3 separate regions of the Homo sapiens genome follow, and all the other regions are linked to region 2. Evidence: fine-mapped expression QTL. A gene starts in region 2. Each other region holds a variant in brackets. All regions are shown on one strand. Distances are between the middles of the regions.

The links.
Region 1: its variant is fine-mapped to the expression of CCDC81 in tibial artery (GTEx, PIP above 0.99). The same link has a PIP of 0.9 or more in skeletal muscle.
Region 3: its variant is fine-mapped to the expression of CCDC81 in monocytes after interferon gamma (Fairfax 2014, PIP 0.95).

Annotation. Positions count from the first base shown.
Region 1 is chr11:86,393,625-86,401,810 of GRCh38, forward strand. CCDC81 (coiled-coil domain containing 81) reads left to right here. Exons shown (of 15, transcript NM_001156474.2): 5 at 1,710-1,789; 6 at 3,997-4,118; 7 at 7,054-7,177. It overlaps LOC105369421 (a long non-coding RNA gene), which reads right to left and starts at 2,476. Exons shown (of 5, transcript XR_007062826.1): 1 at 2,396-2,476. The variant A/G (reference allele first, on the strand shown) is at 3,144.
Region 2 is chr11:86,369,935-86,378,120 of GRCh38, forward strand. CCDC81 (coiled-coil domain containing 81) reads left to right here and starts at 4,953. Exons shown (of 15, transcript NM_001156474.2): 1 at 4,953-5,308. The coding sequence starts at 5,230. The region is part of intron 2 of LOC105369421 (a long non-coding RNA gene); the gene reads right to left. RefSeq lists a silencer at 4,693-4,987.
Region 3 is chr11:86,449,619-86,457,804 of GRCh38, forward strand. It overlaps ME3 (malic enzyme 3), which reads right to left. Exons shown (of 15, transcript NM_001161586.3): 9 at 683-780; 10 at 271-384. Among named protein-coding and RNA genes, the nearest start is that of CCDC81, 79 kb to the left of the region's middle. The variant G/T (reference allele first, on the strand shown) is at 4,487.

The DNA.
Region 1 (8,186 bases), 24 kb after region 2:
AGTCATGGAGTTTTTGAATCTTTAGCTTTTAATTTGCCATGTTGTAGAAGAAATTTCCTAATTGGCATCATTATTGTCAACCATTAAGTAGCTGGTGTGACCTTCATGCTAAGTTGGATACAGCAGAGTTTAAACAAATGAAATAGTCAATCTACCAGACTTACTGAATACTTAGTGTGCCTCAGGTACTCCTCTGGAAACTAACAAAGTAGACATGAATGAATTGAATTATTATGGAATGTTATATAATCCTATATCCCATAAAGCCAAACTCTGATTTTTTTAATGAAAAGGCTATTAATATCATCTCAGTCTACCCATTTCTCCTTTTATGAAGCTTTGGGATGGGGATTTAGGAAATGAAGTTGTGCATAATGAAACTCCTGGTGTTTTCTACACAATCTGGTTTCATACAGGATTGCTAAGAGGATTGCCAACCCTGTGTGTGGAAAGTGGGAAACACATGCAGGAAAAACCCTTGCTTTTCCATGAAAACACAAGGCAAGATTTGCAAGTCCATAAGCAAGGCCAAAGTGGCTAGCTCATCTCTAACCCTCAGGGATTCTGCTGAACTTTGTAGCTTCAATACGTGTTTAAAAGAGAAGACAGCATTTTCCTTGACCTGCTGAACTGTAAAGCACATCTTTTACAGAACGTTTTCCAAAAGAACTAGTCCTGAAAAATACTCTATGAAAAAAGGGTTTGGAGGTCAAAGCTGACTGAAAACTGCTGATCGAATCAGTCACCCTCATGGACAGAGGGACAGAGCACATCAGCATGTTAAAGGAGCTGAGAAGTCTGGCTGGAAAGCAGTCAGTTTAACTGCCTGAATGTATTTAATCATGGAATTGTAGGTTAATCCAATATCTCATTAGCTCTGTAAGACACATTTTGGAAAACTGCTGTGAAGTGGTGTGAGTGAGAGTTTATTCCCAAATGACCCGTAACTTAAAACTGTCTTGTAGGGTAGTCCCCTTGGAAAGCTGTGTGCTTATTTCAGTAATGCTGCTTTTATTAGAAATATTTTCTATACTTCTTTTTGGGAATTCACTTCAAAGGCTTTTGTAAGTGATAGCATTCATGCAAAAATAATAATTTTATATATTATTCTACAGTTAAAATGTGACAATGTGACTATTATGTTTACAGTTACATGAGAATTAAAATAGTCATTTGTTCAGTATTTACTATGTGCTAGCTACTTACATAGAGGACCTCATGGAAGTGCTATTAGATCCTTTTATTATCCCCAGAAACCTAGTGCCTAAGGCCACATGCCTGTTAGCAGTGTGGGGATTTGAACATGAGCCCACCTGACTCGAAAGCTTTTCTCTTAATTGCCTAATTTTAGTTATTTGGGTCAAGAGTGGAATTAGACAGCTTGCTCACTTTCCAGATATTTTTACAAAGTCTGCTATCTTCTTAAAGACATCTAAAAGAATCTGTCAACTCTGAAGGCAATTCCCTAAAAGGAAATGGTTTGAGAAAAGGCAACACCGAAAGAATTGCTGTGCAGCTACCCAGGGTGATTGCTCTGATGAATGAGATCATTCCTCATTGGATTTTTAAGCTCTGGACTTATAAGCGCTTAACATAAACAACAACAAGAAAAGTATCGTGGTAGCCTTGCCTATGAGCCTGCAGTTTTTAATTTGTCTGAGTCCTGGACCTCAGCCTAGATGTAACCTTGCTCTGTTGCTGTCCTCTAGAGGCCTGGCACTGTGGACTCGGTGTTGTCTAGCAGAGAGGCCTTGAGGAAGTGGCCCAGCAGTGTGCTTGCGTTTCCAAGGTGAGTGCTTTGCTTCACGGGTTCCTCTAGGCACTAGCACTCCTTGCTGATCTGCTGATCTCATTGGGCAGTGTTTCTCAATGTTTTGTAGCTCATGTTCCTTTTAATGTATTCTGTCTGTCTCTCCCTCTCTAAATCCACCAACAAAGAAGAGTTTATTGCATACACTTTCTGTAGTTAAGTTAAATAACAATGGACATTTATTCTTTTTTATCCCCCCTCACCGCGACGGAGTCTTGCTCTGTCACCCAGGCTGGAGTGCAGTGGCACGATCTCTGCTCACTGCAACCTCGGTCTCCTGGGTTCAAGCAATTCTCTCCTGCCTCAGCCTTTGGAGTAGCTGAGATTACAGGCGCACGCCACCATGCCTGGCTAATTTTTGTACTTTTAGTAGAGATGAGGTTTCACCATATAGGCCAGGCTGGTCTCGAACTCCTGGTCTCAAGTGATCCATCCGCCTCGGCCTCCCAAAGTGCTGAAATTACAGGCGTGAGCCACCAGGCCTGGCCCATTTACTCTTTTTTAAAACTACCCTTGGCTCCTGGAAATTCTGATACTACCTTCCATTAACCTTAGTCCCTGCAGTATTAGTAAAACTCTTCTCACCTGCTGAACTTTCCACTACTTTGTACCACTTCTTCTGCCCTAGCTGCTGCTTCTTCCTTCAGTTCAGCCCATTTCCTGTCCTTGCTCGGATTTTTACCACTAAACGGGTTAAACAGATAAGTTAGAATAAGGAAACAGCTTTACTCCATGAGCACAGTGGTTGTTACTGGTGGTTGCATATTACTGTATTTAATCTTCACGACAACCATGTGACTTATGTATTATAATTCTCCATTTTATCATGATACAAAATTAATTTTAATTTTTTTCTTTTACATGAATGAAGCAACATGGTGCACTATTGAGAACACTGGAGTAGGAGTCAGGAGACTTTAGTTTTATTTCCAGTTTGGCCATCACTTATTCATTGTGTGCCCTTAATTATGTTAATAATCTTAATTGCTGTGCCATTAACCACTGTGCATTTCAGGTGGAGGAAGTTTGGGGAATAACAACTAGCTTCCTAAAGCATTATTACTTTAGGAAGTATGAGTAAAGTATAAAAGTATGAGAATTTCTGAGATGTTTTGAGTGTGACATTCTCTTGTTTGTTGCTTTGGAACAACCCCCTCCTGGAAGAGCTGTATGACACATACCTCAGAAGATTCAGTGTGAAGTCCAGAGTAAGCCTTAGAGGTTGTTTTCCAACCGCCTCATCTTGCACACGAAATGGCCATGCAACTAATAAGCAGCCAAGCTTATAGAAATAAAACCATGGCTCCTGGTCCAGTGTTCTTTCCATTGCACC[A/G]TATTGCCTTACTCACTAAAAATAAATCAGTGGATTGAAAAGAATTTTATTTTGATGGTTTCGGAAGGCAAACATGGCTGTTCCCTTTGACATATTTTGGCTTAGGCACTCCAGGAGGGAAATAATTATAGTGGGTCAAAGAACAGAGATGGAGTCGCCATCAAGTCAAGGGCCTAGAAATGGACATGGGGACTTAAATACTCAAAACAATTGTTGGTGTTTTATTTATGTGACATTTGGCCCCTGAATTGACTGAAGGTACCCCCACCCCCACTCCCTACTCCAACCTAGTACTCCATACCTGAGGCCAAAGAAATCCTACAACTACACACACCAACTGAACATCCCCCTTCCTCCCTGCTGCAAATTGTAGCTTTGCAAGTCCTTCACTTTTGCCTGGGGAGAGAATGATGAAGTGAAGTGGCAAAGGAGGGAGGAGACAAATGGTTATTTTGGGGCATACTCTACCAGGCTATGAATCTTTGCCTTCAAGCTATCCAACAACCTTTTTTCCACTGTATCACCCCATAGCATCTAGTTAAAGAAGTAGGATATAAAAATTCAAATTGAAACAAAAACCAATAACCTAAATAAAGGACTTTAAGGCAATTTCTCTATATGCAAGCTGCTTTGAGACTATGGTATAGAGGGAAAGGCCTTGGTCAGCTTCCAGAAAGCCTTGGAGAAAATTAATCTATGATATGTACTTAGCACATCAGAGCACTCACCCCTTGAAGAAAGTGGGCTTATTTCAGAATCAGCCAGCTGGCTGGGTTGCTTCCAAAACTTGAGAGTTCACACAGTTACCTGTTCAGGTTCAGTGCAGCAGAAAAACATATTGGCTCATTCCTAGGATTGAGCTCAAGGAGATGGAAAACAAACTGCCTATGGAGACCCTTGTAGAAGAATGTGGAGAGAATAGAGAAAGGAAGTGCAAGTTAAAAGACCAGTCAGACAAAGAAGAAGGCACCAGAGGTAGGCCAATGATTTCTGGGTCCAATCTGTCACTCTTTACTGCTATGAGCCCAGCCATATTGCTTAGCCCAAGGTAAATAAAGTTAAATTTACAAATAATCACTATATTATTATTACTTTTTTTTTTGAGATGGAGTCTCGCTGTTGCCCAGGCTGTAGTGCAGTGGCATAATCTCAGCTCACTGCAACTTCCACCTCCCAGGTTCAAGCGACTCTCCTGCCTCAGCCTCCCGAGCAGCTGAGATTACCATCATGTGCCACCATGCCTGGTTAATTTCTTTATCTTTTGTATAGATGGGCCAGGCTGGTCTCAAACTCCTGGCCTGAAGTGATCCGCCCACCTAGGCCATCCAAAGTGCTGGGATTACAGGCATGAACCACCGCACCCAGCCACAAATAATCACTATATTATTTCTAACAAATACGTTCTATTCCTAGAATCCTGCATTTGACCTTAATTATGAGCTTACTTACTTTATGAGCCTTAGATCCTATGACTCTCAGGCTCTTAGATCATCATCTCTTTGCTGGCTCCCCATTGCTCAAAGGGGCCAAAACTCAGATGACTGCAGGCAGGTAACGCAAATGCAGGAAGTGGTCTGGATGTAAGTGGGTTGGAGACATGTTAGCTTAGTTAACATTTCTAATGAAAAACAAAGAGTGGCAGTTTTATCACTTTGATGTCTGTAGAAGAAAGCTGGATTCTCATACCTATGTCTGCATCTAATCTGTTGTGATAGGTTGTTTTGGTGGAAGCAAATGAAGAAAATCCTAGGACTCCAAAGATTTTTTTTTTTTTTAACCAAAGACTTTTTATTTTCTTTTTGAGATGGAGTCTCGCTCTGTCACTCAGGCTGGAGTTCAGTGGCACAATCTGGGCTCACTGCAACCTCCGCCTCCTGGGTTCAGGTGATTCTCCTGCGTCCAAGCTATTCTCCTGCATCAGCCTCCCTGGAAGTAGCTGGGACTACAGGCGCGCACCACCACGCCCAGCTAATTTTTGTATTTTTAGTAGAGATGGGGTTTCACCGTATTGGCCAGGCTGGTCTCAAACTCCTGACTTCAGGTGATCCGCCTGCCTTGGCCTCCCAGAGTGCTACAATTACAGGTGGGAGCCACCACACGCAGCCACAGACATTTTGAAAGGGTCCTAGGGACCCCAAAAAGTATGGCTTGCCAGGCCACACTTTGAGGACTGTTCCTCTAGCAGATTGTTGCTTTGCGGAAATGTGGCCCAAGTGATATCAGATCTTCTAATTTTTCTAATTTTACTATATGTGCTACTAAAGTGAGCACAATCTTCTGATTTTTCAAAAGAAGCAGAGATCCTGACTTTAATGTAAAATCTATTGGCTGTTAAAAGTTGACGACTTTTGTTGATATTGAAACAAAAAATGCTAATTAGGCCAAACAAAACATACCAATGGGTGAACATTGGCTTGTGCATGTCTGTTTTCTACGTGTGGCCTACAGGATTGCATATCAACTTTTAGCCTAATATTCATATGCTTTTATTTCTCTAGTCTCATCTCCCACTGTGCCCTATAGAGACCCCTTTTTTGGGAAAAATTATCTATTCATGTTCTTCTTTTTCTTTGAGGTGGGGTCTTGCTCTGTCACCCAGGGTGGAGTGCACTGTCTTGGCTCACTGCAGCCTCAACCTCTTGGGCTCAGGTGATCCTCCCACCTCAGCCTCCTGAGTAGCTAGGACCACAGGTGTGCGCCACCATGCCTGGCTAATTTTTGTACTTTTTGTAGAAACAGGGTTTTGCCATGTCGCCTAGGCTGGTTTTGAACTCCTGAGCTCAAACGATCTGCCCACCTCGGCCTCCCAAAGTGTTGGGATTACAGGCGTGAGCCACTATGCTTGGCCTATTCATGCTCTTCTAACATGCCTGCCCTTCCCCAACTTCATCCTTTTGTTCATTTTTTTTTTCCTGCAGCCTGAATTGTCCTTCCTTTTCTTTCAATCTATCTCCATCCTACTCACCTTTTAGTACCCTTTTCACATCTCACTTTCTCCATGAAAACTTATCACTGAATTCTGAAGTGGCTTCTCTCCTCTGAACATATCAGATCCTTAAAGACTACAACATTTGGCTGGGCATGGTGGCTCACGCCTGTAATCCCAGCACTTTGGGAGGCTGAGGTGGGTGGATCACCTGAGGTCAGGAGTTCGAAGCCAGCCTGGCCGACATGGCGAAACCCCATCTCTACTACTACTACAAAAAAAAAAAAGTTAGCTGGGAGTAGTGGTGTGCACCTGTTATTCCAGCTACTTGGGAGGCTGAGGTGGGAGAATTGCTAGAACCTGGGAGGCAGAAGTTGCAATGAGCTGAGATTGGGTTACTGCACTCCAGCCTGGGCGACAGAGTCAGACTCCATCTCAAAAAAAAAAAAAAAAAAGAAAAAGACTGCAACATTTATTTGTGACTTATACATTTTGCATCACTGTCCTAAGTTGTTATTTATTAAATGTATATTATAAAGCACTTAGCACTGTTAGCACATAAGATGACCTCCAAATGGGAGCTCTCACTTTTTTGTTTGTATCTTATTTTTCTCTTCAACTATATCTATCGAAAGATCTTTACAGGCAAAATGTCTAAATCTACAGATATCAAAGTTGTAAAACTACCACTGTTCATTTTTCATGAGAAATGTTAACTAAACTAACACGTCTCCTGGTCATGTTATATCCAGCCCACTTCCTGCATTTATGTTATTGCCTCTTTTTGTCCTCTAAATGCTTAGCACAGTGCTTTCTTTGCGAATATACAGCAAAAACATTTTTTTATACCACAATAGAACAAGGGGTGATTATTTAAAGATAAGAGAGTGTATCTTATATGAAAATTTCCCTTGGTAAAAACTACACAGTTAGTGGTTTGAGAGTTGAAAGGAGACTCGTTTTCATTCATTCTTTATTCTACAGATATCTCATCACCCAAAAGACTTCGAGATAGACAAGCTTTGTTCCCTGCCAAAGTGACAAATGTCAGCTTGCTGGAAAAGTTTGAACGAAGTGAGAGTGGTGGGAAGATTATGACCCCTGAAAGGTAATGCATTGACTTTTTTTTTTCTGTTGTACTTTACTAAATATATTTTTGAGTCGTTGCTTGATGCGGGGAACTGTAATTGTTCATTAATTCATTTATCCAGTGTTCTTTAGAGCTTTCTATATGCAACATGATGGGAATAATAAAGGTGACCAAGGTTCACCATCTAGTGGGAAAGCCAGACATATGCAGAGGGATAAATTACGATTCAGTGGAATAGATGTTATGACACAGGCGGAAACAAAATAGCACAGAGTTGGGATCATCCAACTTTTTCTGTAGATTTGGGCTTCCCAAATCTACAAAACTTTCATGTTTTCCGAGTGCTTGGATATTATGATGTGACACAATGTTATATTTACATCAAATTGGAAAGTAGTTTTGCCAAACATAGCCAGCACTCCATTAGTTCTCAATAAACATTACTTGAATGAATGAGTGTATTACAATTTATCATGGTCGTTTTCTTCTTGTGATGGTATGTCAAAAGATTTCTAAAATATTTTATCCTTCTCTCTGAGTAGGATACTTTTTAAGACCTCAAATCAGTCAACCATACTCAACCATGCTCATTCATTGTTTACTGAGCACCTAACTATGTACTTTGCATTGTGCTGCCAACCTTTAATTTATTAATGTGTCAAAATTTATCAGCTATCATATGTGCAATTTATGTACTTTGTGGATTACTAAAGTCATGTTAAAAACTCTAGGAATGCTTGTTTTGGATAATATCACTGTTATGAAAGATAATTGAGAATTAGATGTATAGTACTTGGGAATTTAATTCAATACAACAAATATTGAGCACCACCATGTGCCAGGTAATATTCTAGGCACTGAAGATTCAGAGTTACAGATGTATAAACCTGCTTTTATAAAACTTACAGTGTTGCAGGAAGACTGAAATTAAAAAAAAAATGCATGCGACGAAGACAACAAAAGTACAGAGGCTGCAAAAGGACAGAGTAATTGTTGGAAGTGGTTGGTAAAGGTTTCCTATAGAAGT
Region 2 (8,186 bases):
CCACTATGAGTAAAAGCTCCCTGAGGCGTCCCCAGAAGCTGGGCAGATGCCAGCACCATGCTTGTACAGCCTGCAGAAACATGAGCCAATTAAACCTCTTTTTAAAATAAATTACCCAGTCTCAGGTATTTCTTTATAGCCATGCAAGAATGGCCTAACAGAGATATAATCTTCCTCCCCTTGAATTCCCATTACACTGTCTTCATGCCTCAAACATGACATTTAACATATGCTACGGTTTGATGTCCCCTCCAAACCTCATGCTGAAATTTGATCCTGGCCCAATATTGGAGATGAGGCTTAATGGGAGGTGTTTTGGTCATGGGGGCGAAACCCATGAATAGAGATATATGACCTCCCTCGGTAGGGAGTGAGTGCTCACTCTATTAATTCCTCAGAGCTGGCTGTTAAAAAGAGCCTGGCATCTCCCTTACCCGTCTTTTGTTTCCTCTGTCACCAAGTGATCTCTGCACAGCTGGCTCCCCTTTGCCTTGGCCTTTTGCCATGAATGGAAGCAGCCTGAGGCCTCCACCAGATGCAGATACCCAATCTTGAACCTTCCAGCCATTCTTAACTGTGAACCAAATAAATATGTTTTCTTTATAAATTACTCAGTCTCTCCGGTAGTCCTTTACAACAACACAAAACAGACTAAGATAAATCTTTACAATACAGTTGCAGTGCACAAATACATAATTTATGTGAATTCAAGTCTAAGTAAAACTTAAAGAGAATACTTTAAATTGAAATACTTTAGTTTTATCTACCAGTTCTGTATCATTCAGGTTCAATCAGAGAAGCAGAACCTGTAAGAGTGATAGAAAATATAAAATTTATTATGAGCACTAGCCCTTACATAGTTGTAAGAGCTGGTTAAGTCATCTCTGTCTGGTGTTGGCCTCTGTGTCTGGTGTAGGGCCTAAAGACAGCAAGGCTAATAGGAAGAAAAGATGGTCATGAAATGGGGAAGAATAAGGAAAGATTGGAACTGGTGAGAACAATCTGGAACCTACAAGTGAAACCGCCTTTGCAAAAATTATGACACTGAGAAAAATCTGACATAGGAAAATTATGGCAGTAAAAGAAATCTGTCCTAACCAACTCCATCTTGCTTCTAACCTCCAAGCTGCCCTTGTTCGTTCCCGGGCATAGGCTGAACTAACTTTGGGAGGAATTTATAGTTTAACTTTGAAACAAAGATGATAACAGCCCCTCCCTGAAACAAACTCCCTTCTTGCATGGGGACAAGATTGTTCTTTGTAAAACCAACAAATTAGCCACAAGCTCAGAAACCATGGCCTAGGAGTCATGCAGCCAGAGGCCACAAGATTGCTAACTTCCCCAATTGCCTCTATAGATAACATTACTATTGTAAAACCTAAGATTGGTGTTTGAGCCGATTTTTCTGACCCAGCATTCTGATGGGTTAGCTGGCACATTCCAGACAGAAAAACTGGCTCATCTGGTCTTGTGGCCTCCACCAGGAACTGACTCAGCACAAAACGACAGCTTCAACTTCCTATGATTTCATCACTTGACCCAACCAATCGGCATTCCCCATTCCCTAGCTCCTTTTCCACCAAACTAAAAAACCCTAGCCTCTGAATTTTCAAGGAGGCTGATCTGAGTAATAATAAGACTCCAGTCTTCCATTTAGCCAGCTCTGCCTGTATTAAACTCTTTCTCTATTGCAATTCCCCCATCTTGATAAATCAGCTTCATTTGGGCAGTAGGCAAGATGAACCCATTGGGCGGTTACACACAGGCAAACTAGATCCTGTGAGGACAAATTGCAACCTGCATCTGTATTTCCTTGCGTCCAACCTCAGTGATGTGAGGGACTTATAGGATTAGGTAGTACCTTTGGCAACACTGCTGCACATGTACCTGGTCTAAGATTGAGAGAAGCAGAATGAGGAGATCTGGCAGGAGCTGCAAAGCTGCAGGCCAGGCTGCTGGCCCATGCCTACACGGTGAGCCAGCAGGTCAGTGCCTGGCCCTACAATGACCTTTAGGGCTTCAGATCACATGGCTGCTGCTTTACTTCTGCCTTCCAAATCTCACACACATTCTCTTTTGACTAACCCTAACCTAGAATCATATAGGAAAGGGAATTCTGGAAAATGTAGTTCTATCTTGGCTAAGTTCACAGTCTATGAAGCTACCGCAAGTCTGTTTCTGCATAAATCCTTGAGTAAGCAAGGGACAGAAGATATACATCTGCTATATTTTCAATCTGTCTCAGTTCATGAGTGTGTATCATAGTGTAAGCATGGCACAGTGTTGAGTACATACAATTCTATTTGGTTGAATTTTTAGAATAAGACTGCTTTCCTAAACTCTAGCCAACTGTTTCATTACATCTCTCCTGAAGAAAGTGATCTGCTCCAGTGTGAGGAGAGAAAGACTGCATTGGGTCTATAAACTGAGAGATGGCATATGTGGGTCTCTGATATGGTCCCTTCCTAAGAAGGGATTCCTGGAGTAGTTTTCCCACATCCAATTTTCAATTTACACTTTAACTTTGAAACCCAATCCTGATTTTAGAACCTCCTGCAATAAATATTTGTTAAAATGGTGAAAAATGAATTGTGAACTTCTTATCTGTAGGGGTTTTCTGGTTAAGTGTCTGTATTCCTTTTAGCAACTAGCAAAGTGCTTGGCACAAATTAGGTACTCAATAGATGTGGTTAAATTATTTATTGCAAATTTCTATTCTGGTGTTGTATAATGAGTATTATGTTTTCTTTTTCAATAGTTTTTTTTTCCAAGTTGCCTTTAATATAAGCCACTTAATATTGTGTGTGCCTTGGGGCTTGGGTAAAAATGACTGCCCATTCAATGTGGGTTTTGCAAGGCAAGTTGGAGCTTGCAGAAAAGTAAATGTACATTGAAATACTTGGGAACATTTTGGCCCTGTTTGTTTCCTTCAGTGTTTGCATAAATCCCTACACTCTACCTGTACCTCTCTCTCTTCCTCTCTTTGGTAAATTATCTTAAATATTATAAAGTAATTCATGCCCTTGTTAAACAGTAAATAAAGGAGAAAAGTGAATATAAAAGTTCTTGGAATGCCTCCTCCACCATACAAAATTTTGCCTGATCCAAAATTCCACTGTTAATATTTTTGTGTATGTATCTTTCCTCAAATATCCCATATGTTTACAAAAATATATATGAATACGTATGCATACTTATATACTTATATTTGAAGGAAACAGGATTACATTATATAAAAATACTATGCTGCTACTGGTTTTCACTTACTATATTTTGAAACTTTTTCAACATCAGCACGTAAATGTGCAGTTTCCTTTTAAGTAAACTCTTGAAATGTATTCCAATGTATGTATTCACAATTTAACCAGTTCCCTATGATGGTCATCTTAGGCTAATTCTAAGAATTAACATTATAAACAATGTTGCATATACATATATCTTTGTATGTATCATGCTAATACATCCAATTTTATATCCAAATATATCCAAATTTGTAGCAGTGGAAGTACATAGTTTGCCTGAGTTTTAATAGCAACTGAAAAGTATGTATTTTCAGGATATATAATATTTATAGCTCATTAAAAGTTTCTAGTCAACACAGGGTTACATGTATCTACACAGCCTCTTTTGTCAAGAGACCTTTGACAAAAGGAAAGTAAAACCTTGGAAGAAAAGTCTTTGTCCTTATTCTTTTTACAGCTTCCTTTAGCCATCTACAATTCACTAATAATTAGCATCCACCACCATCTTCTGGAACTGAAGACAGCTTTTCTAGAGATTAAAAGTACCACTATATTTAATTCAAAATCTAATGTATTGTAAAACAATTATTTTTATAATTCCATTATCTTAATGTGGAACAATAATGCTGATATTGCCACTAAAAATTAGCTGGCATTATCTATTAAAATTGATCATATGCATTTCTCATGACCCATGAATCTACTCCTAGTTATATACACATCAGAAATGAGTACATCTATCTGTCAAAAGTGTTCTGTGAGACTGTTTGCAGCAGCCTTATTCCCAGTAGCCTCAAAGGGAAACAACGCAAATGCCCTTCAACAGTGGAATGCATAAATTGTGCCATACTCATAAAAAGGAATAATATGCAACAGTGTAAATGAAGAAATTATTACCATAGAAACTATGGATGAACCTCATAAACATAATGTGAATTTGAATAGAGCCAGACAGAAAAGGATACATACTATATGATTCCAAAGATTCAACAGGCAAAATGAATCTGCAGTATGTGTTGGCTAATGACTGGAGGGGTAATGAAGTGCTGATCTGTGCAATGTGCTAGCATTCTATTTTTTGACCTGGATGGGTTTTGCATAGGTATGTTCAGCTTGTGATAATTACCAGCAGAGGGGAGAGCATGCACGCAATTCTTCAGGATGAGATTGGTGACATGTAGAGAAAAGGGGGAAATGACTGTAGTTTAAAAAAAGTCAATTCCCTCCTCCCCACTTCTCCAGCTCTCCATTTCCTAGGAAGAGAGCCCAGGGAAAAGCAAACCAAGAAACAAATTCCAGCTCAAACTCAAACTCTCAAACAGATCTGGAGACTCAAATATCGATCTCTCTGGGCAAAAGGCATTCCTAGATTTGTCCAAGGTACAAAAACTACCACTCTAACCACGTTTCTTCGCTGCCCGGGGTCAGAGAAGTAAAAACCCATTATTTATTTATTTTTAAGTTACTTCCAACCTCGCTGCCTCGAGCTTCTGAATCGCCTGGGCAACCTGGAAGCCGCCCATCTAAGGGGGTGAGGTCGAATCCCAGCCTTGACGCCTTAGCAACCGAGCGAGCCTTTCTCGCGTCCCAGCAACGCGCCCTTCCCTCTGCCGGGCCTATTCTCCCTGGTGCCCCTCCCTTCCTCGAGGCTGCAGCTCACCCCTCATTGGGTCTCTCGTTGGTCAGGAGGGCGCGGGTCTGCACACTCTCACTCGGTGCCGGACATCAGTTCCTGCGGCTCTTGCTGTGGGAGCTGCCCGAGAGCCAGAGCAGTGGGGAGGGACGGCGAGAACCAATGTTTAAGTTTATTTAAGAAAGAAGAAAAAGAGTCAAGAAGTTCAAGATTTTCGTCACTCTTATTTTTAAGGCACATCCAAAGCTCCGTGGAGAAGGGGCTGGAGGGTGGGAAAATTATTTTTGTGCACATTCCATATAAGAAAGAAGAGACCCATCGAACATTCAGTACGGAGTCACCTGGAAATTGGAGATGTTGGATACGATCGCCCGTGCCCTGCAGGACCTGGGCAGGCAGGTGCTGCCCACTCTGCCCTCGCTGAGCCAGGAGGGTAAGCGTGTTGGGTAGCAGGGGGTGGCCCTGGGGATTGAATCTTCATCTGCTTGCAGGGGAGGCGGGGGGACCCACTTCCCAATTCCCTGGCTCAGGCCTGGCCTGCCGTGGCTAAGTTGCCTTGACAACCAGCTGGTAATCACATCCTGCCCACGTTGGACGCCCAGAGACCCTTTTCTGGTTTTGATTAAACCAGGGGATGCGTAGACAGCACAAAGTAAGTGCTCAATAAACGGACTAGCACAAAGTAAGTGCTCAATAAAGGTTAGGTAAAAACAGCCACTCCCACACCACTCGCTGGGATGGATCACAACCCTTTTGCCTACCTAGAGAAAAGAGATGCAGGGACCCTAAATGGCTCCTTTTGAGAGTTCATGCAAAGACGGTTGATTTTGTTGCCTTTGACATCATGCCGTTGTATTAAGAAAATGAGATGATCATAAAAAGCTACAGGGTAAGTACTTTGGAAGGGGACCTGGCACCTTCTCAGAGAAAACTCATTAGGCTTGGTTAGTAGCAAGACAAGATCTGTTTTTAGCATCGTTTGTAGAAGAGTCACCCCAAAGTGAGGCTGAGATCTGTCTGCAAACCACAGGAGAAGAGAGGTGCTGCAGGAATGCAAACTCATTATTATCAAACCATTGTAACTTAGAGATGTTGCTTAGGCTTTAACCAAATGACCGCAGAAAACAAATAGGAATGGCTGCTTCTTTCTCTTCCCCTGCATCACTCCTATCTTTTCCTCTCAAATCATCCTGAAAGATGCATTGAAGATAATGGCTTAATGAATTTAAAAACATTTGCTATATTTGTAAATTTATGTATAGTCATTCAAGGAATTCTGAAACCCTGCTATATGCTGAGCACTAGTTAACTTACGGTGAACAAACATCTTGGAATTTACTGTTTAGTGGGGAAGATGCACATTAATCAAATAATCACACAAATCAATGCAAATTTACAATTTAGGTAAATGATACCAGGGAGGAGGTAAATGGTACAGTAAGAACTTTTTTTAAAGATGATTTTTTAGGGTAGTTGTAGATTCACAGTAAATTAAGAAGGAGGGACAATATATTAGTTTATTTGTACACTGCTATGAAGATACTATCCCAGACTGGGTCATTATAAAGGAAAGAGGTTTAATTGACTCACAGTTCTTCATGGCTGGGGGAGCCCTCAGGAAACTTAAAATCATGGCAGAAGGGGAAGCAGGCATGTCTTACATGACGGCAGGAGAGAGAGAGAGAGAGAAGCCCGGGGGACCAGGGGAAACTGCCATTTATAAAACTCTCAGATCTTGTGAGAAATCCCTCACCATCATGAGAACAGCATGGGGGAAACTGCTCCCAGGATCCAATCCCCTCCCACCAGGCCTCTCCCTCAACACCTAGGGATTACAATTCAAGATGAGATTTGGGTGGGGAAACAAAGCCTAACCATATCAGACAGAGATGTCCCACATACTGTCTAATCCTACACTTGGATAGACTCTCCCATTGTCAACATCCCTCACCGGAGTGGTACATGTGTTACAATTGAACCTACATTGACACATCAAAATCACCCAAGTTTCATAGTTTACATTAGAGTTCTTTCTTGGTGTTGTACATTTTATGAGTTTGGACAAATGTAAAATGACATGTATCTATCATTATAGTCATATAGAGTATTTCACTCCCCTTTGTTCTGCCTATTCACCCCTACCCCTAATCCCAAAATCTGGAAACCACTGATCTTTCCACGGTCTTCATAGTTTTGCCAGTTCCAGAATGTAATATAGTTGGAATCATATAGTTTAAGCCTTTTCAGATTGGCTTCTTTCACTTAGCAATATGCATTTAATATTCCTCCATGTCTTTTTGTGGCTTGATAGCTCATTTCTTTTTAGTTCTGAATAATATTCCATTATCTAGATGTACCACAGGTTTTTTTTTTTTAATCTGTCCACCCACTGAAAAATGTCTTGGTTGCTTCCAAGTTTTGGCAATTATGAATAAAGCTGTTTTAAATATCTGTGTGCAGGTTTTAAAAAACTGGATATAAGTTTTCAATTCACTTGGGTAAATACCCAGGGACATAATCGCTAGATTGTATGGTAAGAGGATGTTTAGTTTTGTGAGAAACTGCCAGACTGTCTTCCAAAGGGGCTGTACTATGTTGCATTCCCAAGAGCGATGAATGAGAATTCTTGTCACTCCATGTTATTGTCAGCATTTGTTGTTGTCAGTATTTTAGATTTTGGTCATTCTAATAGATGGTGTATTGGTATCTCATTGTTTTATTTTGCATTTTCCTGATGATAAATAATGGGGAGCACCTTTTAATATGCTTGTCATTTTTTGATGAGATATATATAAAGGGCTTTGGCTCATTTTTAAATTGAGTTTTTCTTTTCTTTGTGTTTTTAAGAGTTATTTGTATATTTTGCATGACAGTGTCTTTTGCAAATATTTTTTCCCAGTCTGTGGCTTGTCTTCTCATTCTCTTGACATTGTTTTTCACAGAGCAGAAGTTTTAAATTTTAATGAAGTCCATCTTATTATTTCTTGCTTGGATTATGCCTTTGGTGTTTTATCTAAAAAGTCATTGCTATACCCAAGATCATCTAAGTTTTGTCCTATGTTATCTTCTAGGAGTTCTGTGGTTTTGCACTTCATATTTAGGTCTATGATCCATTTTAAGTTAATTTTTGTGAAAGGTGTAAGGTCTGTGCCTAGGTTCTTTTTTTTTTTTTTTTTTTTTTGCATGTGGATGTCCAGTTGTTCTAGCAATGTTTGTTTAAAAGACTATCTGCTCCATTGTATTGCCTTTGCCTCTTTGTCAAAGATAAGTTGACTGTATTTATATGGGTCTATTCCTGGGCTCTCTTTTGT
Region 3 (8,186 bases), 80 kb after region 2:
TATGATTTAATGTGGCTGGAGGCTAGTGCAAGTCAGGAAGTGGTGGGGGACAAGACTAGAAGGGGCACACATCTACACACTTGTACAAACTTTTGGACAGAAGCAATTAAGGCTACTTTGGGATGAATCTTTTGCTTTGGAGCTTAGGCCATTGCCCTCATTTTGCTCTCTATTCTGTTTGAGCAGTTGACTTCTTGGAGACCTCTTCCAGTCCAGTTCCTGGGAGCTATAAGGTGTCAGGAAACCTCCAGGTCTCCAGACTGACAGTACCTTGACAATGAGCCCTTTAGAGTCCACCATCCAGATCTTTCTTGTGGCCTCTGCCTTCGGTACACCTTCTTTCTCTAGGGCCATGACAAGGAGGTGGGCAATGCCCATAGCTGCCTGGAAGGTACCATAGGGTAGATGTTCAGACACAGGGCAAACAGCTGCTGAACATTTATCTGATGTCTTGCCATAAGGACCCCCTTTTCTTTCCCCCACCTCAATGACTCCCAGGAGGCCCAATTAAGTCCTTGCCTTGAGACACCCAATTGTCAGAGCCTAGGCAGCTGCAATGATCACAATATGTCTGTGCTGCTTCCTCTTTTCAGAACCCCAGAATGCCTCCCTTTTTTGGTATGCTTCCACCCATTCTTATTCTCTTCCTGGAGCAACCAAAGAAACCCTCAATGCCACATACCTCGCCTGCACCTTGGAAAACAAACACGTGATTGGAAAGCTTGTTCTTGGTGATTCGCAGAGCAGCCAAGATCCCTGCCACAGCAACGGAGGCTGTGCCTGAAACAGAGTGGCCTGAGATCAACCTCTGGCCACAGGCCGCCAGCTCCCAAGAGAAGACCCTTGGCAGAGTTCCCCACATCTGGGACTGTGGAGGAACAGGCAACTTTTCTTAGCCCTTATGCCCTGTAGGCATGCAAGTTTTGGTGCAAATCCATGCTCTCTTTTGCAGATAACTTTTTTGTTGTTGAAGTTGAGAAACAGCTCCTGATTTGTTACTTGACCCCATAAGATGGGATCAGATAGCCAGGTGCTGCTACCATCATCATTCATAAAGAAAATGACAAGGATAAATATAATGGAAGACAAAAAGAAGCATGAGCCTCATAGAATTATATAAGGGCTAAATGGATAAAAACATTTAAAAAAATGAGAACACAACCTGACCATGAGGCATTAAATGACCATATGGCCTGAGCTGCCCATCTTATCTACCAAGTCATAAGGTTGGCTGTGTCTGGTCGCACACCATCGTCAAATGGCTTGAGTATGTCTGGAAGGGACAAGTAAGTTGTATAAGTAGGTGGCTCAGATTCATTTGAGCCACTGCTACATGACTTCTTCTCCCTGAATCCACATCTAAGGCCTCACTGGGGATTCCTTAAGAGCAGCTGACCAAGGAGAAAAAACTTGGGCTTGGTTTACAAGTTGTTGTGAATAAATGTTGGCACCAACTAGAAGTGTAAGGTGGCAGCTTCACAGCCCCAATAAAAGGTAATGGTGAAGGACAGTGGACATGACTTCAAGTGGTAAATTTAGTTGTATACTTTGGTCCAGGGGATGGTTAGCACTACATTGATTCATGAGCAGTTGCTAATGGTTTAGCTGGATGATCAGGGACTTGGAAAGAACAAAATAGCAAGACTGGTGATAAGGAGGTCTGGGGAAAAGGTAGGTGGATGGACCTCTTGGGATAGGTACAGAGTAAGAGGATATTTGTGCCCCATGTGAGAGTTTATCAAAGGACATGATGAAAACAGTCTTTCAATAATCAGGTGGACAAAATGGCATGACCTATGTATGTTAGACAGCATCTTTCTTTAGTCACCCAGGGTTTGCTTAACGGACTTATGCATAAAACAGCCATGGTGGTAAGGATGGAGGCTATGCATGGGCTTCCTCTTACCAAGCTGGCCTGATACTGTTACTGTTGAATGATTAACCTGTCAAACACAGAGAACAATGCTGAGCTCCTTATGGGCACCATTCCCTGGGGGGGACCATCCACCTGGTGGCAAGATGATTGCAATGGATTACTCCCATCATGGACAGGAAAGAAATCTGTCCTAACTGGAGCAGATATACATTCTGGATATGGATTTCTTTCCTCGTCTGTAATGCTTCTGCCAGCACCATCATCTATGGATGTTTGGAATACCTATTTGCCATCCAGATATATTACAGACAGCAAGGCTTTTAATCAAGGACTTTAATTCACAGTAAAAGATGGGCAGCAATATGCTCATGCCTATGAAATTCACTGGTCTTAACATGTACTCAACCACTCAGGAGCAGCTGGCTTAGTAGATCAGTAGAATGGCCTACTGAAGAATTACCTAAGACTTAAGTAGAAGCAACACCTTATGGAGATAATGAGCTTCTGTTTTATGGGATGCAATGTATTATGACTTAGCAAGCAAGACATTGTGTTTTTCTCTCATAGCCAAAATGTATGGGTCTAGAAATCGTGGGGTGGAAATGGGAGTGGCTCCTCTTACCATTTCACCTAATAACCCACGTACAGAATTTTTGCTTCCTGTCTCTTTAATTTTGTGCTCTACTGGATTGGAGGTCTTAGTTGCCAAGAAGGAAATACTTCCATTAGGATTTACAACATGGTTCTATTGAATTTGGAGTTGAAACAGCTCCCTGGCCAGCTGGGGCTCTTCATGCCACTAAATCAGTGGGCAAAGAAGGGGATTACTTTTCTGGCTGTTGTGATTCATCCTGATAATCAAAGGGACAGTGAGGACAGGGAGGACTATGTCTGAAGCTTAGGGGAGTCTTCTAGGGGCGTATCTTCATATTTCTATGCTCAATAGTAAATATTAATAAATATATTGCAAGTAAGGATATTCAGGACTATGGAGGATTCAGATCCTTCAGAAATGAAGGTTTGGGTCACTCTACTGGGTAAAGAATCCCAGCCACCTGAGGTCCTGTCTGAGGGCAAGAAAACATGGAATGGAAGGTTGAGGAAGAAATTTATAAAAATCATCTTTGACTTCATGACTGGTTACAGAAACAAGGAATGTAGCAGCCAGGCATATTTTTCTTCCTTGATCATAATGTGACTATATATAATGGTACACATGGGCTAATTTCTTCTCCCTTCTCCTCCCTATTATTTTATATAAGTTCTGTTGGAGGTTAATTCCACATGTTAGTCTTTAGATAACAGAGTTTTCAAATGTGACTGAATTTTATGAGCTATTAATTCTGCTTAGAGGTGGATACAGTGACTGTCTTCCAGAGATGACTAAAATGTCTGTTGGGACATTGTCTATCCCCATGTTGGAGAAAAGGTGAGAATGTCTTCATTTGTTGGAAAAATAGTTGAATGTTGTGAGGCATTTTGTTAGAGGTTTTGTTTTTGTTTTTGTTTTTGTTTTTAATTTCAGACAGAATCTCACTCGGTCGCCCAGGCTGGAGTGCAATGGTGTGATCTCGGCTCACTGCAACCTCTGCCTCCTGGATTCAGGCAATTCTCCTGGCTCAGCCTCCTGAGTAGCTGGGATTACAGGCACCCACCACCATGCCCAGCTAATTTTTTGTATTTTTAGTAGAGACAACGTTTTGGCGTGTTGGCCAGGCTGGTCTCGAACTCCTGACCTCAGGTGATCTGCCTGCCTTGACCTCCGAAAGTGCTGGGATTACAGGCGTTAGCCACCACACCTGGCCAGAGTTGTTTTTGTTGTGTGGAAGTACACATGTGCCAGACAGTGTATATGGATGCTGGGTAGCCAGAAGGATGGACTGTACCAATTATTGGGTAATTGTTTATTAGCTTCTTTACACTGCTTTGTCTGCAAACCACTTTTCAGCTTTGCCAACTTGCTCTATGCTGGGCTCTGCCAATAGTAGGTGCTAGAGGGAGACAAAGGCTAGATGAGGGGGATAATATGCTTCCCCCCCACCACCCCAGCATCATCCATCTTGTTAGGATTGCAAGGTAAAATGTAGGACACTTTGTAAAATTTGAATTTTAGATAAACAACAAGATTTTTTTAAGTATAAGTATGTCCTATGCAATATGAGCATAAATACACTAAAAATTATTTGTTTCTAACACCAAAATTTAACTGAGTGTCCTGCATTTTGGTTTTGCTAAATCTGGCAGCCCCACAGCCTTAGTTCTTCAACTCCATGGCAGCAGTTTGTTCCTGAAGCAGAAGTTGAACCCGGTTTGCAGTTTGGCTGTCACTGAGAGAACTAGTCTCATAGCTGCCACTCAGTGACACCAACGCCACTAACTGCCACCTCCTCTTTCCTTTGTTCCCTTAGCCTCAGAAGTTGTAGCAGATCCTTAGTGTTTCTTTTTTGGCTTTTGAATTCTTTAATAGACAATTAACATTTTAAAAAATATTAAGTGTTCTCTATTAAAGCAAGTGGTATAGACTCTGATACAGAGAGCTCACAATAAAGTAATCACAATCAGCAACACTCCACGATGGTGAAACCAAAACAAAACAAAGCAAAAGGAAAT[G/T]AAAGTAGGACTATTTATGGCTTACTACATTTGGATAATTTAAAAAATTGTTGTCATCTATGGCTGGTGAGGAAGGAATGAAAAGTAAAATGTTCCAATATACTTTGTGTTTTAAAGTGCTACAATCTTTAGTGAGAACTGTTTCCCCATCTAGAGCAAAGGCATAAAATATTTTTGCCCTTTGACCTTATACTTCTACTTTTGAGAATCTCTATATAGAAAAGTCCAAAATGTATATACTAGGATGTTTATGACAGTGTTATTTATAATACAGAATGCCTGGAAATAACCTACACATCTAACAAAGGAGTAATGATTAAGTAAAGTAGCCAGTGTAGACACAGTAGACTGTTTTATAGCTATTAAAAATGATCATCATGAATATTATGCAGCAACATGGAAAATGCTGTGAAGCTAGTCACTAACATCAGATATTGTTCCAAGTACTTTATATGTCTTAACATGAAGACAGTTATTCATTTAATCCTCATTATTGCCATCCTCATTTTACAGATTGGGAAAATAAGGTATGGTTTGCTGAATTGTACAAGATCATATAACAGAGCCAGGATGTGAATCCAGGGAATCAAGCTCTAGGGCCTGTGTGCTTAAGCACTAACCTATGTTCCATTGAGTTGGCTGGAAGGAAGAGAACATTAAATAGTATACATTTATCACACACATAGAATCCAGAAGGAACTTACAAAATACTAATGGTTGCAGGGTGGGAGTATGAGTGAATTTTCTATATTCTCTGTTTCTAGTTTTCCAGGTGGCTTATTTTTAGCTAGCTCTAGGGTGGGCCTTCTCCTAGATTTATACTTGGCTCAGTGGCTGAGATAGGGGGTACAGCAAACAGTTGGTGGCCAATAAGTGCACATTCATCATTGTGGACATCAGAAGGCGGGACTCTATGCAGGATCATACTTCTCAGAAGATGGGGTGCAGGCACCCCTGTCTTCACACAGCTGTGGCCTAGAGGGAGTGCTGAACTGTTGGCAGTGTCACAGAGACAGGGCTAAGGATACTGGGACTTCCTAACATCCTTCCCATGGTCTGCAAAGTACACAGTGTGCACCCTCTGAGGGCCTACAAAGTGACAGGCACCATGCTAGGCACTGTCGAAGACAGATGAATCAAACATGATCCCTGCCATCAGAGAACTCCCAGTTTACTAAAACTTGGGCACAAAACAGTAGAACACAGTGGGTAGTCAGAGATCACTGGAAATTGTTACATTCATTTATTTTTTGAGCATCAATTATGAACCAGGCTCAGGTACTGAGGATACCATGGTAACAAAATAGACCAAGCTCATTTCTGTTTGTAAGGAAAGAAATTACTAAATGATTACAAGTGTGATGGCTTTTATAAAACAGTTGTTCATGACATACTTTTTGTTAGTTTATGTACAGAAAAGTATGTTATCAGTATCAACCTACCTCTGCAGTGCCTCCCCGTGTACTCCATGTACCAGTAGCTTTATTCATTGTTCCCTACACATATCATGCATGTTTATACTTAGGTACATTTCCCCTGCTATTCTACCTATCTAGAAGACCATTTTGCAGTTCATTATTCCTTAAGACTGCCCAAATGATCAGCAAGACATTCCTTGCTACCCCAGGCATCCTTAACCATGCCTCCTTTTCCCATATCTACTTTTTTATCTAACCTGAATGAAGCTGGACTATATCATGGTCAGGCTCAGCACTGTACTGCATTCAAAAGAAACACCAAGCTGACATCCAAGGAAGTATCAACAAGCAGTTTAAATAAGTATTTAAATCACTTAAAGAAAGGGCGAGGAGAATTGCATTGTATGACCCTCTTCTGAAATCCCCAAATCCCCTTTGTCCTTAATTTTCTCCAAAGTCCACTTATTATGTGGCACTCCCTATTTTCTCTGCCTCCCTCCAAGTAACTCCATACTTCTTACTCTCCGCCCATAAAACTCTCTTTCATTTCAGTTCTACGGAGTCAGAATTTGTATTTAAAAAGATCTCCAGATGATTTGTATGCCATTCCAGTTTGAGATGCACTGAACTAGATGGCCTCTCTAGGTGAGGTACTAGTTTCCTGCCATTGGCTAGCGGGAGTTTTCTGCTCATCGGAGTCTGTTTCAGGACAGCCTTTTGCCTCCCTGAAAGGAGGGGTTGCGCAAAGCATTTGCCACCAGATGGCGCCAAAGGTATTCCATCAGAGATGATCCCGCAGACACTACACTCTGGATGGGTCTTTTTCTTTTTGGGTGTCAACCGTCTTCTGGGGTTATTTGCAGGTTGAATAACTGGGCTTCCTCACAGAAATTCGGTGCTGGATGGGGATTGGAGATCATGGCATTTAACAGTTGTACAGATGAGGAAATTGACAGAGAAAGGTGGCTTGGCCCTGTCAGTCACCCAAAGCAAGGAAACCTGGGGGTTTCCTTCCCAGGTTTGCTTCCATCCCTTCATGATCTCTGCTGCTCAGACAGCCCTTCCTGACTATAGTTGAAGGCAGCAGGAGAGGTGTTATGGGGTTTCTCTGGGGAAGGACGGAGCAGGGTGGTAGCAGAGGCAGAGGGAAGTGAACTTAGGCAGTAGATGTCAACATTCAGCTGTACCTCTGGAAGGGGAGGGGAGCTCAGAACAATGGGAAATCTGATGGGAAAGAGTCACACATTACAATAAAAGGATGCAAGGTCAGCTGCCATTTATTGATCACTCTTACTGTGGCCTTGGCTCTGTGCTGTGTGCTTACCAGCACAGGATTTGCTCAATTAATCTTCCCAACAACTCCATGAAGTAGGGACTACTGTGCTCCTATTTTTTGCCCTTAAAAGTGGAGAGTGACGCTCAAGGGAAATGGAACTAATCAGGACAGAACTTCTGAATCCTTTCACCACCAAGTCTTCAGACCCTCTGCCTCCAATGTCCAAGTACTTGCTTTTCCCCCTGTTACCATCGATGCCTCCCTGCTTCTAGCTAAAGCACCACTTGTCTAATGGATCCCATCATTTTTGCCTACTTGTCCCATTATTCCCACTCCTATTTCCTGCATATTCAATTTTGCCCTCTCTACTGGATCATTCTCATCAGCATACAAATACACTGTAAAACTTCCATCTTTAAAAGGCCCTCCCTTGGTCCTATATGTCCCACCCTATTTCTTACTCTCCTTTATAGGCAAACTCTTCTAGAGAGCTGAATATATTAACTGCATCTAGTTCCTTCCTCCTTGGTCCCCATGAAACCCAGTCCAATCAAATGACTGACCCACCTCTTGTCAGGGTCCCCAAGTACCTCCAGGTGGCCAAATTCAGTAATCAGTTCTCAGCCTTCTTCTTTCTTGACCTCTCAGCAGCATTTGGTACTGTTGCCCATTTTTTTCCTTTGGGAAGCTATTTCTGCACTTGGTACAGGCCAGAACTCAAGAGGAAAAACAGTGGTTCTTAAGCTCCAAATTACAAAATTTGGCAAATAAAGTTATCTCCATCATTAACCTGCATTTTTGGGGTGCTCTTGGGCTATGCACTAGGGGTTTAAAACTGGAAAGGAAGCTACTTAGCTGTTTCGAGGTAACCACTCTGAGAAGCCCATGGGTCCAGGGATGTGCTGGAACATGACTTGTGCCCATAAATGCCATGGGCAGCTGAAAGTGTGGCAGGTTGTTCCTATTCATGGTAAAAGAAAAAGAAGTTTTTTTTTCCAGAGGGAGA